Linked DNA regions of Homo sapiens. The gene in region 1 interacts genetically with each later gene. Each region holds a gene or a part of one and is shown on either strand. Other genes may lie near its edges. The genes, in order: STRAP and SMAD7.

Region 1 (8,404 bases):
CTTTGCCATTTTAGTAGTTCATGACCTTTGATGTACATTAGAATATCTGGAGAGCTTTTCAAATATTCAAATGGTATGAGTCCCAGAAATTCGGATTTTTAAAACTTTTTTTTTTTTTTACTTTTTTACTATATATTTATATTTTATACTTTTTACTACATTTAAAAATATTTTTTAATACTTTTTACTATACAGACAGTATCTAGCTATGTTGTCCAGGCTGTCTTAAACTCTTGGCCTCCATGCCTCAGCCTCTCAAAGAGCTGGGGTTACGGGGGTGAACTACTGTGCCTGGTACAGAAATTCTGGTTTGATTGGTCTGGGGATGGAGTACTGGTCATACTGATTATTGGTGTTTTTTTATTTTTCTTTCTTCCTTTTCTTTCCTGATGTGCAGTCATAGAATTGCTGACCTAAAGGACACATTTCAATTGTTGGCCCTTTACAGTTTGCTTCATCCTAGTTCATCAGCATCATCCTCTGCCATTGCACACCATAAACCTACAATCTAATTATACTAATCTTATTGTTGCCAGAATATACCTTACCTGTTCTGACTTTTGGCGGTTAATTATGTTATTAAACTGACTTGCAGTGGCCCTCGTTGCCTTTTTGGGAATGTATCATATTTTATAAATCTTGTTATCTCCAGTTCCTACTTGGTATTTGTAACTTAGGAATTTGACACTTCATTGTTTAAACTGATGAAGGCAATATCAAGAACTGTTGTGCATACACAGATTTATTAGACTTAAGAGGCTAGAGAGTACAAGTGGTGTTTTTTTTTTTTTTTTTTTTTTTTTAAAGACAGAGTCTTGCTATGTCCCCAAGGCTGGAGTGCGGTGGCACAGTCTCGGCTCACTGCAACCTCCACCTCCCGGGTTCAAGTGATTCTCCCACCTCAGCTTCCTGAGAGGCTGGGACTACAGGTGCACGCCACCACGCCTGGCTAATTTTTGTATATTTAGTAGAGACGGGGTTTCGCCATGTTGGCCAGGCCGGTCTCGAACTCCTGACCTCAAGTGATCTGCCCGCCTTGGCCTCCCAAAGTGCTGGGATTACAGGTGTGAGCCACCGTGCCTGGCCTTTTTTTTTTTTTTTTTTAACAACCTCACACTAAGGAGCAATTGTAAATCTGCTGCCTCCTTCATTTTAAGTACATTAAACATACCAATTTTAGAATGAAAAAATGAAGGCTGATTGACTGTGGTGGCAGATACGTGACTGTATGCTCTTGTTTATTGAAACAGTGTTGTTTTTATGCTTTCTTAACATTTCAAGTCTCAATGTCTGTGTTTACAAGTGGTGTATTAAGAGCATGAAGGCTGGAGCCAGATGACCTGAATTTGAATTGGTGGCCTCATGCACTTTATTTAACCATTTTTTTTTCTGTCATGGTACCTAATTCATAGGTTGGTTTTGAATATTAAATAAGTTAATATGTTTCGAATACTTACAACATTGCCTGAAGTCTATTACACCTATGAAAGTGTTACATATGTAAAGTAACGATGATAGCTACCATGTAAACTATCACCACCCGCACTTGATCAAAATCACATATTATTTTGAAACTAATATGGCTAAAGCCTTCAAACTATTTGGCCTCATATAAGGAAGATTGAATAGATTTAAATGTCAAGAAGGAAGATTTTTGTGATTTTTTTTTCCCCCTCCTCAGTTAAGGCTTTAGGTGCTGTGTTAGAGTGGAAAATAATAACAAGCATTGGCACTAGGTGGGCTTGCATTCGTGTGCTAACTATGCTGTGTATTTCCAGTTTGATCATCATAGGATTTTTTTTTTTTTTTGAAACAGGGTCTTAGGTGCCTAGGCTAGAGTGCAGTGGCGTGATCATAGCTCACTGCAGCCTCTATCTCCCAGTCTCAAGCAGTTCTCCAACCTCAGCCTCCTGAATAGTGACCACAGGCGTGTACTACCATGCTTGGCTAATCTTTGTGTTTTTTGTAGAGATGGGCTTCACCATGTTGTCCAGGTTGGTCTTGAACTCTTGGGCTCAAGCGATCTGCCCACCATGGCAGGATGTTTCTTAAATGTCGGCTTTCATATCTGTAAAATGGGACTAAGACCCATGAGATTATTGGAGGAACAGAGAGATCTTTCTCCACCATATATCCCTGAAGTCCAATATGATCTCTGTCACATAGTAGGTGCTCAATAAATGCTAGTTGAGATTTATCCCTCATTTCCTCTATGTCTTGTCTGTGGGGTGTAGGAGCGTGTTTTCATGTGCGTGTTTGTGTGTGTGTGTATTCTCTCCAAGAAGTTACTCCCCACAGCCTACCTGATTAGTCATGGTTGGTATAAAGCATTTTTAGAAACAATTTTTTTTTCCCTCCATTCTTACGTTTCTTGGAAAACTCATTTATGGTGTGGTCATTTAGAAGTGGAATTTGGTCCCGTTTCTTGTGGAGAAATTTAGCAGAATAGGTCTGTGGACTAGTGTAGAATGTTATCTTGGAGTAATTCGGGCAATTGAGTCCAGTGTTGAGTACAGTGTCCCTAAAACACCATCTCTTTGTATCTATTTGGGAAGAGTGCCAAAGTAAAGACAATTCTGTGCTGTGCTCCCAAGAGGGCTTAAGTAGATCTGGGATTGGGTCCAGGAATTTATAGGTAATCACAATGTATCACTCTTTCTTTCTTGTAAAGCCAATAGAAATATCTAATTTTAGTTTTAATAAGGTTCTTGATAAATCGAAAATGGTATTATCTCCTAGATGACTTGGTCAACATGTTAAGGTATTTGGGCAATTTTTTAAAAATCTTAAACTGGCCTGTTTTGTTGAAGGTTTAAATAAGTAAGTTAAGCAGCTCCTATTATGAGACTTACGGTAAGTTCATTCTGAGGATATGGAAAGTATCAGGCAGCATTATTATTTGCAAGAAACTGGGGTATAAGAGGTAACAGTAGTTTAAGGAGATGACAAGTACTTCGTGGGATGTGAAGAAAATGTTGGAGGGTTAGCTGCTGAAAGGGTATTGTTAATAGCGCTTTACTGTCTTGATTTGAGCCCTGTGGCCAACTAATATATGTCAATTTCTTGCCTGGAGATTGAATAATACATTAGGAAACATTTAGATTAGATCCATTTTAGGGCTCTTACTGTGAATAATGGAAATCTGCCAGAGTTAGTACATGCCCTGTCAGAAAATGTCATGCCTCTATTTTAGTACTGTTTCTAAATAGGAGGAAAAACTACAGACACATTACCTCTCTGGTTAATATTACTACTTTGGTCACTCCAACTCTCTTCTCACCTTTGAATAGACACAGTCTAAGCAGAATCTTAAGATTTTAGAGCTGCCATGTTGGCGTTAGCCTGTAGCTACTTAGGAGGCTGAGGTGGAAGGATCTTGAGGCCAGGAGTTCAAGTATAGCTTGGGCAATATACCAAGATCCTGTCTCAAAAAAAAAAAGAGAGAGAGGTTTTAAGTTTATGGGAGATTATTTAATAAACTTGAAATTAGCATATCAAAGGACATTGCCCGGGTTTCTTTGGAGACTTGTGAATAATTAGAATAGTAATTTTAGATACATTTGTTGTTTTCTTCACTTTTGATGCTTTCTGTCATTCTAATACTTGTGAACCCTTACCACAACCATGAAATGCATTTCACTGTGATTAAGGATATATGTAAACAAAAAACAAAGCAAATTTAAGCACCGTAATAAGTGGAGTTCTGTGGGAGAACAGAAAGGAATGGTTAATTATTGGAGTTGAGGATAAATAGTTTCAAAGAAAAGATAGCATTTGAAATGAGCCCTAAGGGTGAGTAGAACTTTAATAGCTAAGAATGTAAAATACAGACTTAAGAGAATAATATAAACAAGAACATAGGAGCCTGGAAGAAAATACGTAAGTTATTTGAGGAGTGGTTTATAATCTAGTGTTGCTAGATTCAGAGAAACAATACAAAATGAGGTTGGGAAAGTAGATTGGGGCCAGAGAGTTGCATTGGAATGACAGAGAGAGGAGCAAGTTTCCTGGGCAAAGAGAAATGAATACTAGGGAGTTTAGCAGCAAGGCTACTTATAGTTGACATTATTTCTTTCAGAACATATTTATTCAGCCACTCACATGACCCACATTATTAAATATTGCAAGCTTTGGTAGTGTATCATGAGCATTCCTGTTAGATGGTCTTTCATATTCATTAACCACATTGCACATGCTATTAATGCTTATCTAGAATAGCCTTCCCTTCTTTTTCCCCTGATATATTTCTCTTTGCTTCTTCCGACGGCTAGCTCTGTTACTTACATTTTCTGGACAATATCTAGGTGCTTTTTTCTGAGTTTTTATAGCCATATATATGTCTTTTAATTATATTTCTTAAATGTGATATTTAATGCATGTTTTTCTCCTCAGCTAAAGCTCTACTATGGCAAGAACCTACTGTGGGGTATTTTTTGTCTCCCATTTGTGCCTTAGCACTAAGTATAGAATGATATATATTTAATATATTTTATTATGTATTGGGGTAAGCAAAAGAAAAGATACATCTTGCTTTTCTCTGATTTTTTTCCCTCTACCATTTTATTGCCCACTGTGTTCCTGAAAATAAATAGCAGTTGCATTAAAATGGAAATCTCTATGGAACATAGCTTTTTCACTCTTAGCAATTCTTTTCCCTGTCTGCAAAGTTTTCTTGTTTATTTTTCACTGACCTGTTCTGATCTAAAATCAACTTTTTTTTCCCCCTTCCTTAAGCTTTTTTATTTGGGGGAACCCTTTTAGAGTAATTTTGTAAAGTATTGCTCAACTATTACCCGCCCAGAATATACATACACATATAAATGTATGTATACCTATAACCAACTTGTATTTTGGGGTGGGGTGGGACAGAAAAAACAATGTAAAGATTAAAATAGTCAGTGTTAGCATTATATAATCAAAGGCTGATAGTTTGGGGGAAGTTAACTGTACTAGAGTTTGAAATTTTAAGTCAGCTTTGAAGAAGAGATGAAGTGGACATTGTCTCTCCACTATCTTAATTTAAAATTTTACTTAGCCTGTACCAAGGCTTTTCATTCCCTTGTAACATTTTTAAGGATTTCTGGTTTTTTTATTTATTTTTATTTTTTATTGTGCATCTGAGTGGAGAATAGAGAAAAAATTGGCATGGTGAAACTAAAAATTGGTTAAAATGTATGACAGGCTTGCTAAAGGGATATTATGGCTGTCAGCTAAAATAAAAGTAAGGAGGATGGGTTGGTTCATGAATCTTACTTGCTTAAATTGTTCATATCTTTTCCACTGTCAAAGAAAATTAGATTGGTTATAAAGTTTTTACAGAGAAATTTCTTTTCCCTTAAGCTTATTTAAATATTTTATCAAATGAAGTCTGTGAGGGATATTAGAGATAAAGGAGATTTATAATACATTTATGTAACATTTCACATATCTAACTTATTTGGTACTCATCAATATTATAATTGTATTTATCCTTTTAATATATTGGGTAATATTTATCCTACTAATTTTCTCTTTTTTACTTTTAGCAAAGTGTGGGATGCTGTCTCAGGAGATGAATTGATGACCCTGGCTCATAAACACATTGTCAAGACTGTGGATTTCACGCAGGTATCAGAAAATGGAATTTATTTTAGCGAGTTAAGTTGCTGGTACATAGTGTGATAATGCTTTTATACTTGATTGGTGTGTATATTTGATTGATATGTTTTGTGTGGAATATTTGTTATTTCTTGGTTCATATTTGATTTGATTGTGTATTAAGCTCTATGAATTTGTTTCATAGTTAATCCTGTCAAGCTTTTAAGATACTGTGGAACGAGTACCAGTCCTTCAACATGTAAAAAACATCTGAAAAGCTCAAGTAGCCTTCCCCAACTACTAATAGAAGGGAGAAGATAAATTTGAGATAATCAGAAAAGGGCCTCTCACAAGGGAGAGGAGTAGGATCAGGGGAGAATGGGAGAGTTCATGTATATGTAGTGTAGTGTAACGCTTTTGAAGTGGAAAGCTTACAAGTCTTGGCAGTTATGAGAGGTCAGCTGTTCCACAGTATCTTCTCAGAAGTAATTGGTTATGTCTTGGCATCTCTTTGTGATGTCTGTGAGCTAGATTTTGATTTTATTTGGTGTTGAAATTTGAAAGAGAAATAACTATTAAAATGGTTAATCTATTCACATTTTACTTTGTGTTTTCAGGATAGTAATTATTTGTTAACCGGGGGACAGGATAAACTGTTACGCATATATGACTTGAACAAACCTGAAGCAGGTAAGCATAATTTAAACATCAGCTTCTAGTTTTATTTTCTTTTAATTTAAATAACTGATTAAAGAATTTCATGCTCAGTACTCAAATTTGGAAAATAAAGATAGTCATGGCCGGGCACGGTGGCTCATACCTGTAATCCTAGCACTTTGGGAGACTGAGGCGGGTGGATCACTTGAGGTCAGGAGTTCGAGACCAGCCTGGCCAACATGGCAAAACCCCGTCTCTATTAAAAATAGAAAAATTAGCCAGGCATGGTGGCAGGCGCTTGTAATCCCAGCTACTTGGGAGGCTGAGGCAGGAGAATCGCTTGAACCCGGGAGGTGGAGGTTGCAGTGAGCCGAGATTGCGCCACTGCACTCCAGCCTGGGCAATAAGAGTGAAACTCAGTTTCAAAAAAAAAAAAATAGTCAACAAAGAAGAAAATTAAAACGTAATTCATCAGTTTTTGGTTTATAAACTTTCAGTCTTTTTTTCTGCACAGTTTTTAAAAAATAAGTTTATTTGCTATGTTGCTATTGTATAACCTTCTTCCAAACTGAAAATTTATTATGGCAAATTTTTATCATTAAGTTTTAAAACAGTGCAGAACAGTGTTACTATTTTTTGGTAAGAAAGATTGGTTATTTATAGAAGTTGGTGATGGTGAGAATTCTCAGTTGTGTGCACATATTGCTTAGATTTTTGAACCATGTAAATATATTAGCTATTCGAAAGAATTTTAAAAAATCTGCAGTTACAGTTTTTTCATTTCACTAAATAGTCTATGAACTGTTTGTAATGACTTTCTGGTTTTCCATCCTGTGGTTATATCATAAGTGAATTAACTAGTTTCCTGTTTTGGCCCGTTTGGGCTACTTACAGATTTTAAATATGAAAAGCAGTATTATGCTAAACATCCTTACAGTTGCAAATATTTTCACAATGATTTCCTTAAGATAACTAAGCAAAAGTAGAATTGGTGGGACAAAGAGGAGTGGAATTGTTGGAAGGTGGCCGGGCGCAGTGGCTCACGCCTGTAATCCCAGTGCTTTGGGAGGCCAAGGTGAGTGGATCACCTGAGGTCAGGAGTTCAATACCAGCCTGGCCAACATGGTGAAACCCCATCTCTACTAAAAGTACAAAAAAATTAGCTGGGCATGGTGGCAGGCGCCTGTAATTCCCAGGTACTCAGGAGGGTGAGGCAGGAGAATCGCTTGAACCCGGGAGGTAGAGGTTGCAGTGAGCCGAGATTGCATACCAGCCTGGGGGACAAGAGCAAAACTCCTTCTCAAAAAGAAAAAAAAAAAATGAATTGTTGGAAGCCATTGATAGATACTACCAAAGTGTCTTCCAACAAAGTATGGGTATATATGTATGTATCTATACCCAACATGTTCTAGTGAGCACTGATAACTAACTTTCTCTTTGTCAATTTAAGAAAATAATTCTGTTGTATTAATGTGAATATTCATGAGATTAAAATGCTATTGAATACCATTTTAATATATTCCCTTTTTTATGGAATAATTGCCTGTCTACCTTTTGTCCATTTATCTGTTGTGTTATTCATGTTTTTCTTACTGGTTTTTAAAGGTTCTTTATTGAATTCTAATTTATCATTTGCTTTTAAATTTTGTTAAGGTGGTTTTATGGTATATATGTTTTTAACATTTTGGTGGTGAAATTCTTTATGCATTCTCTCATTTTACAGAAGTTATAGGTGTCTTCCCCAGTCTACATGTTTATTTTATAATATTTTAATAATTTCCCTCACCATATATATACTTAGCTACCAAAACATGACAAACATAATTTTGTTTTATTATATATTTGGTATCTTTCAGATTTTATTATGTGGACATTTATGTAGTCATAAATCTATAAAATTTTAAAGAGTAATAAGAGAGTCAGAACCACATTGGAAATTAAGCGGTTATTCTCTTGAGATACCTTCCATTTCTGAGAACTTTTTAAAATATTTTACATTTTAATGTTACAGTAATTTGTTATGAAAACATTTTTAAGGTGAGGAAACAAAGCGCATTTGCAGATTTTTTTATTCTCCATTGCATGTAGAAGTTTTTTTCTCCTTTCTTTTTTGATAAATCTATGCCAAAACATAGCAAAGGACTCTGACCTCACTTCTTCTATGAACCCA
Region 2 (8,243 bases), on another chromosome or scaffold:
GGGGATGCCAGGGAGCTATAAAGCAGCACCAATCATTGTAGCTACTTGCTCAGCACCGCACCCAGCTTCTACCTAGGGTAGCAAAATGGAAGAGGAAAGCCGTGTAGAGAGGGGTGACACCTGAATTAATACACCTACAATTACACTATACGGGAACATATCTCTGCAAGTACATGCATGTTCCACCCAGACAAACCGTGACGTCAGACTCCACTCTTGAAACACCCATGAAACCTACCTGCCCTGTGTGTGCTCCGGCCTCTCATTACAGAGCCTTAGCACTACTGGCCAGATCTCCAAAAGATTCTTCAGATTCTCCATTTAGCCAAGAAACTGAATTAGAATTATGACCTCTACTTTCTCTGCTTATTTAAGTCCTTTCTGTTGCTATGAAGCCTGGTCTGACCACTCTCAATAAGTGAAGATCTTTTAGGGAGATCCAGAACAGAGAGGGAATGGGACCCTAGAGAGCGGAAACTTGCCCAGAAAATCTTATAAACTCTGCCAAGTGCTCGCCTAACGTGGGGATTGCTGTTGGCCCTAGTTGCTTAACCAGTGAGCGGCAACGCCCCAGCCTGGAATCAGGTTTTCTGACCTCTAGTCTGGTACTCTTTCTAAGCCTTTCTAAGGTGAAAATATGATACATTTCCCAGACACCTTAAAAATCCCATTTCTGGGCCGGGCGCTGTGGCTCATGCCTGTTATCCCACACTTTGGGAGGCTGAGGCGGGTGGATCGCCTGAGCTCAGGAGTTCGAGACTAGCCTGGGCAACACGGTGAAACCTTGTCTCTGCTAAAATACAAAAAAATTAGCGAGGTGTGGAGTGCACGTGTAGTTCCAGCTACTAGGGAGGCTGAGGCAGGAGAATTGCTTGAACCCAGGAGGCGGAGGTTGCAGTGAGCTGAGATCATGCCACTGCCCTCTAGGCTGGGTGACAAAGCAAGGCTCCATCTCAAAAAAAAAAAAAAAAAAAAAAATCCCACTTCTGTCTCTTTCGTCTTCCCTTGCCTATCATGATAGGCCTCCCAAAGTGCTGGGATTACACTCCTTCTCCATTCTCTCCTGTGCTTTCTCAGCTGCTGTCTTCACAGGTTGCTTCTTAGAATGTTTTTTTAATACACACACAAGGTTTCAATGCCCTTTTATACAAGCCATATTTTAATTTACAACAAAATTATGATGTTATACAACTGCAGCTTATGTGGCCTTACACAGTAAATGTTCAGAATGGCAGCTTCTGTCCGTCCAGTAGGGTTCTGCACTGCTTGGCATCCTACTATCTTCCAAGTCAATAAGTGTTAGGATCTCCTTGCCTGGAAATGATCATGTAAGCAATGTTGCTGATTTCCTCTTGAATTTATATTACCAAAGGTACTTTTGGTGGGGTGGAGGAAGGGTCCAAATGCCCCTTAAGCCCTAAGTGTTGATTTCTAAATATTTATTAAGCATCTACTATTGTACTAATATGTTAGAAATCTTTTTAATTGCTAGAGGGGGAGAGGACTTGAGCTCTAAAGGCGGCTAAGATTCATTCCTGCCTTTTCCTTTTAAGAACATATAATTTAGCCGGCAAGATGTACATTTCATCTTTACTTTTCTTTTTTTCTTTTCTTTTTTTGAGACAGAGTCTCACTCTGTTGCCCAGGATGGAGTGCAGTGGCGCGATCTCAGCTCACTGCAACCTCCGTCTCCCGGGTTCAAGCAATTCTCCTGTCTCAGCTGGGATTACTGGCGCGCGCCACCCGCCTGGCTAATTTTTGTATTTTTAGTAGAGACGGGTTTCACCATGTTGGCCAGGCTGGTCTCAAACTCTTGACCTCAGGTGATCCACCTGCCTCAGCCTCCCAAAGTGCTGGGATTACAAGCGTGAGCCATCGCACCTGGGCACATTTCACCTTTTCTAAAGATTATTTTAAGGCCAGGTGCAGTGGCTCACGCCTGTACTCCCAGTACTTTGAGAGGCTGAGGCAGGTAGATCACTTGAGGTCAGGAGTTCCACATCAGCCTGGCCAACATGGTTAAACCGCGTCACTACCAAAAAATACAAAAATTAGCCAGATGTGGTGGCGCGCGCCTGTAGTCCCAGCTACTCCGGAGGCTGAGGTGGGAGAATCGTTTGATCTGGGGAGGCAGAGGCTGCAGTGAGCCGAAATCGAGCCACTGGACTCTAGCCCGGGTGAAGAGTGAGACTCTAAAAAAAAAAAAAAAAAGAAAGAAAGAAAGAAAAAAAGATTCTTTAAAGCCCCCAACGAGTTTCACTGCTGGCCTGATCTCACAATTCTCAATGGCTTTTTAAAAAAATCGTATTTCACTGAATATGAAGTGAGGTTAGATCACCATGCCAACTAGTGGCCTCATCAATACTGATGTGTGTGTATTTAAATCATTACGTTTCTCGGAGCCATCAGCTTTCACGCTGTAAATGCGTTTATGCCCTAGCAATGCCATGCCCGTTTCTATGCAGTAACCCGCCAGCTTGGGTATATGTTTCTTCGGGACCTGGGGTCAAGGAATAAACTCTCTGACTCTAAGCACCTTGAAAGCTACGAGGCCCAGAAACAGGGCCTGCATGCAAATGAATGCCCTAGGCAGGTCTGCTCGCTGGGTAACCTTCCCGCGCCGGGAGGCAGGGTGGCGGGTGGCGGAGGTCTTCCGGGCCCGGGAGGAAACCTGCCCGCGGCGCGCAGGCGAGCCCCCACCCCCGCTCCCCTTCTCCCGCCGGGATGCTGCCCCTCACAGCTCGTCAGCCGGCCAAATGCATTCCAGAGCTGTGCACAAGACACACTTCTCCAGGCAGTCCTAGAAACCGGAGCCCGGAGCTGAGAGGGCGGGAGGGAGCGCGCGGCCGCCGCTGAGGTCATATTCACGCCGCCTCCCCGCCCTCGGCGGCTGTTCCCCTCAGCGCACACTTCCCAGGGCCTCGGTCCAGTCCGGTATAAATGTCTTTTAAACCGAGACAGCGCTCTCCTCCCCTTGCCCTCGGGCGCGGCCAAGGGATCCACCGCCAGGGCCTTTAAAACAAAACCAATGAATGAAGCGCTAGGGCGAGCGCGCGCGAGATGGCCACCGCGAAACCCAGCCGGGTCGAAATCGGGCCACCGACCCGCTCGCTCAGCTCCAAAACTCGCGGCGAAGCCCGCTCGGTGCTCCCTGCTTTTCCAATTTCTCCATGGCTCCGGCCGGGGCTCAATCCATTCTGGGAGCTTCTCTGCCCCCCACCTATCTCTCTCCCCTCCATCGGTACCCCCTCTACAGACCCGGGAGGGGGTGGCGGTGGCGGGGGGTTGGGGGGAGAAATAGCTTTTAGAAACCCGATCTGTTGTTTGCGAAACACAATCGCTTTTTTTTTTTTTTTAAAGCGACAGGGTGTCTAGACGGCCACGTGACGAGGCCGGAGCCGGGCGCGCCACTGCGCAGTGGAACCAGCCGAGCAGAGGGCCGGAGGGGGGGTGCGGGGGGGCGGGGAGGAGGCGGCGCGGCTGCGGCGGCTGGGGGCGGGGGAGGGAAGGGGGAGGAAGGGGGAGGGAAGGGGGCGGGGGCGGGAGGCCTTGCGGGAGGCGGTGAGCCCCGGGCACACTCGCTTGCTGCTCGGCGCACGGAAGATCCTGTCCCCGAGCCGCGCCAGCCGAGCCAGCCGGGCGCCGTGCTCGGTCCGCTCGCCGCGCGGGAGAGAGCTGCCCGAGACAGAGCCAGTCCGTCGGCGCCGAGCCGCCGAGCGCCCGGCCCCTGAGCCCCTGAGTGCGGCGCGGCGAGCCCCTGGCGGCGGCAGAAGGACCGGAGCGCCAGGAGAGGGCGGACCGGGGACAAGGAGGCTCCCGGGCGCGACGAGGAGAGTCTCGGAGGAGGAGGCGCCGAGAGGACACCGGGGCCTCCTGCCGCCGCAGCTGGGTCGAGGCGAGCAGCCCATGCGGGGAGCCTCGGCGGCCAGCCGCGGCCAGGGGAAGGGACATCGGCGGCCCCTGCACTAGCAAGCAGCTTGTGCCCGGGGGGGGCGAGAACGCGCGACCCGTCTGGGGCCCTCCGCCGCCGCCGCGCCACCCTCCCCCGCGCTGTCAGCCCCGCCGGGCTCAGCCGCCGCCGCAGCATCTTCTGCCCCTGCGCCCGCGCCAGCCTCGAGGAAGTCCCCGCCGAGGACCTGGGCCCCCAGGAGCGCAGGGGGAAAGACCAGAGACTCCCCTAAACCACCCAGATGCGCAGGATTGAAGCGGTCTAGCCAAAGCTTTCTGTGGATTAAAAAAATACACGATTTTTTTTTTTTTTTTTGGCAGAAGAAAAGGAGAGGAAGACCAGCGGGGCTTTGCAAGGAAACGGGGGGATGTAACTCGTGGATACATTTTTCCACCCATCAAACATCTTGTTATACTTTGTAAACATTTTCTTTTTTTAAACCCCAGTTCCAGCCGGACGCCCCCAGACCTCTGAGGTTCGAGGAGGTGGTGGTTTTCATTTGGGGCTTTGCATATTTGGTTGTTAGGTTTTGCGAGAGCCTTCTTATTTTGCCAGACGTCTCATGCGGGGTGAAGTCCACTCGGCCCCCTCCCCTGAGTCTTCGTGTGCGCGGAATTCGAGGAGATCCGGTTACTAAGGATATAGAGGAAAAAAATAAATCGCTTGCTTTTTTTTTTTTAATTGCCTGCTTCTCCCCACCCCCAAATTAAGTTGCTTAGCAAGGGGGAAAGAGGCTTTTTCCTTCTTCCAACAGCCCAGCCGAACGCCTTTCGTTTTTTGCCCCCGCGGACCTTCCATGTAGGAAGCCGAGGCTGGCGAGCCCGACATTCGGGAGCCACTGCGGGGGGGCCTCTTTTTGGGGAGGCGCCGACGGGGGCAGGCTCGGCCGTCCCCAGGGAAGCGGCGGCCGGGTTCCTCCGGGGCGCGCCGGGGCCGGAGAGCCGCGCAGGGCGCGGGCCGCGCGGGGTGGGGCAGCCGGAGCGCAGGCCCCCGATCCCCGGCGGGCGCCCCCGGGCCCCCGCGCGCGCCCCGGCCTCCGGGAGACTGGCGCATGCCACGGAGCGCCCCTCGGGCCGCCGCCGCTCCTGCCCGGGCCCCTGCTGCTGCTGCTGTCGCCTGCGCCTGCTGCCCCAACTCGGCGCCCGACTTCTTCATGGTGTGCGGAGGTCATGTTCGCTCCTTAGCAGGCAAACGACTTTTCTCCTCGCCTCCTCGCCCCGCATGTTCAGGACCAAACGATCTGCGCTCGTCCGGCGTCTCTGGAGGAGCCGTGCGCCCGGCGGCGAGGACGAGGAGGAGGGCGCAGGGGGAGGTGGAGGAGGAGGCGAGCTGCGGGGAGAAGGGGCGACGGACAGCCGAGCGCATGGGGCCGGTGGCGGCGGCCCGGGCAGGGCTGGATGCTGCCTGGGCAAGGCGGTGCGAGGTGCCAAAGGTCACCACCATCCCCACCCGCCAGCCGCGGGCGCCGGCGCGGCCGGGGGCGCCGAGGCGGATCTGAAGGCGCTCACGCACTCGGTGCTCAAGAAACTGAAGGAGCGGCAGCTGGAGCTGCTGCTCCAGGCCGTGGAGTCCCGCGGCGGGACGCGCACCGCGTGCCTCCTGCTGCCCGGCCGCCTGGACTGCAGGCTGGGCCCGGGGGCGCCCGCCGGCGCGCAGCCTGCGCAGCCGCCCTCGTCCTACTCGCTCCCCCTCCTGCTGTGCAAAGTGTTCAGGTGGCCGGATCTCAGGCATTCCTCGGAAGTCAAGAGGCTGTGTTGCTGTGAATCTTACGGGAAGATCAACCCCGAGCTGGTGTGCTGCAACCCCCATCACCTTAGCCGACTCTGCGAACTAGGTGAGAAGTTGTCCCCCTACCCCCAACATTTTCCGGAGCGCCAGTGCTGGAAGAAAAGCCCCTAGGGCAGTGCGTTTGTGCAGCCATCCCTCCAGGGGGAGTGTGCATACCCTCCTGGGAGAGTGTGCATACCCTCCTGGGAGAGTGTGCATACCCTCCTGGGAAGAGACTGGGGGCTGAAAGTAGAGAAGGGACAAGGGGAAACTCAAAGGGCATTCCCTGGGGGTTCCCTTCCAGGTTTTCTCCTGTGTTGCCCCGAAGGGGTCTACGGGCACTGCTCCTGCAGTCTGCGGTTAAAAATTAGACGCCTTCATTTCCGGATCAACAAGGGGGTGCAGAGGGAGGTGGGGGGGTCACGCCTCCCCGCACCCGGAAAGACGTTGAGGTGTGTGGCCGAGTTGGATTTGGTCCAGGCCCGCCAAGGAAGGCTGGGAGAGGCGTGCTATAAAGGCTGGAAGGTCTCCGTATTTACTCCTTTAGTAAATACGGAGAATCACGTCGAACACCAGTGGCCCAGATACTGTCGTGGCCGCGCACCTTTGGAGTTTTGGGGCAAAGAGAGTTGGATGGAAGGCCGAACTGGGTATCTGTCTCCTTTCAACTCTGCCAGCCCCAGGGTGCAGAGGAACAAACAGGCAGGAGAAGTTGGGTGTCCCCTACTTTTTCCTTCCTTCCGCACAGATAAGTCTGTAGATTAGTGGGGCCCCGGCGCCTCAGTGACGTTGTCGCCTCTTACTGCGCTGGGGCCTGGGCTTCTCGGCTGAGACCCTGAAACTCCTTTCCTTTTATCCTCTCAGCTTTCTCCATTCCTTCCTTTACTCTACGTCTCTGTACACAGAGTGTGATGTGAGGGTTCACCCCGGGCGCCCGCAGATCCCCCACGTTCCCCAGCACGCTTGGGATGCATCTCCCGAGTGCGCTAGGAATGGGCAGCCCCGTGTCCCCCGCGCGAGTGCCGAGCGGACCGGCGGGGGCAGAGGTGAATTGCACGCCTGGGGGGCGGGCCGGGGCGGGGAGCCGAGGTTGCTGGGAGCTGGGTCTGGAGTCCGAGGACGGGGAGGGGGCATGGTCGCCCCCCGCCCTGTGAACTGTGAAGTGCGCGGCTCCGGCCGAGCCGGTGGTTTCCAGCCGGGCCAGCCGAGCGCGGCGGCTGCGGCCGCAGACGTGGAGGAGCGGAGCGCCGAGGCTGGCGCCAGGCGGCCTCTTTTGTTTATCTGACAGCTAAATATCAAGGCAATCACCGCCTCGCGGCCCTGCCTCCAACCCCCACAGCTAAGACAAACAGTTGGGCTAAAAGAATGCCTCTGTTATCATAAGTTTCTATCTCTCTTCTCATGGCTGGGCCTTTATTTTCTCTTGCTTTTTTAATTTCAGAGTCTCCCCCCCCTCCTTACTCCAGATACCCGATGGATTTTCTCAAACCAACTGGTGAGTAGATGATTTTTAAAATATCCTGCTTATCTTAAGTTAGAAATAGAGCCTCTAGAACGTGGCTTTTTGTGTGTAGGCAAAGGCTTGGGGAGGTGCTGGGCTTCACGTTGGTTCTAGGTTTCCTCTGTTGGAAGTTTGGTGAATTTTTCTGTTGTGGCTGGGTTTTTTGCTGTTTTTGCAAAGACGTTCCCTTGATATGCTTTACATTTTGTTCCTTTTTCATGTATTTGTGCTGTGTAGCCGGTGGGCTCAGCTTTAACACGTGGAAGCTTTAGTCCAGAGAGAAGTGTCTTGGGAACCAAATAGGACTGGTTGATGGGGATAACTCGGAGACTTAGTGAGTGCCAGGAGCATCAGTGGGAATAATGGAAAGGGTGATTCGATAGATGGGAAGACGGTTTAAAAAGGTGCAAAGAAGACTTTGGTCTGGAGTAGACACTAGAACTTTTCAGAAGTATAGGCAACAGCCAGTAAAAGGGGGGGGGGGGTAGGTTCCTCCTGCTCCAGTCACCTGCAAGTCAGTCCTCTCCCGGGGTTTTCTCAGTATTCGCCATAGGGACTATCAAAGTTTGAAGCATAGCTCTGCCTGTCTGCTGCTTTGTCACTGGCTGGCATGAAGCCATGGCAGAAGCCCATTTGAGACTGGCACCAGCCCTGTTGTGGTTGTCTGCATTCAACTTCTGGCCGGCAGCAGCACAGGGGTCCATCCTCTGGACATCACAGTGCTGGGGACAGGGTCAGCAAAATGAACTTGGGGGTGACAACAAGGACAAACCCAAATTCCTGGAGCTCCCTCTTACAGTAGGAGATAGATCTGTTTGCTAAAAGTACAGGTTGTATGTAACCTTGGTTTTTGTGCCTGTATACTGGTGCCTGAAAAAAACATTAATACTTGGGACATTTTTATTTTGCCAAGGTTCTGGGAGAAGGAAAAGTGAAGGGTTGGGCACCATTTAGCTCCTGGAATTCTGCAAGTCCTTCCGCCTCCTGCGTTTTGGCTGTTGGGCCTTTCCCCCCACTAATTAAAAG

Evidence for each region.
Region 2: of STRAP (region 1) and SMAD7, changing one enhances a phenotype caused by changing the other (phenotypic enhancement), as found in Homo sapiens cells (one study listed by BioGRID).

Annotation. Positions count from the first base shown.
Region 1 is NC_000012.12:15,884,403-15,892,806, forward strand, and holds part of STRAP (serine-threonine kinase receptor-associated protein), read left to right. Parts: intron 1-5,525; coding exon 5,526-5,607; intron 5,608-6,194; coding exon 6,195-6,267; intron 6,268-8,404. UniProt on the Homo sapiens protein: The SMN complex catalyzes the assembly of small nuclear ribonucleoproteins (snRNPs), the building blocks of the spliceosome, and thereby plays an important role in the splicing of cellular pre-mRNAs.
Region 2 is NC_000018.10:48,947,352-48,955,594, reverse strand, and holds the start of SMAD7 (mothers against decapentaplegic homolog 7), read left to right. Parts: upstream 1-4,629; 5' UTR 4,630-5,170; coding exon 5,171-5,783; intron 5,784-6,261; exon of another isoform or gene 6,262-6,366; intron 6,367-7,157; coding exon 7,158-7,211; intron 7,212-8,243. UniProt on the Homo sapiens protein: Antagonist of signaling by TGF-beta (transforming growth factor) type 1 receptor superfamily members; has been shown to inhibit TGF-beta (Transforming growth factor) and activin signaling by associating with their receptors thus preventing SMAD2 access.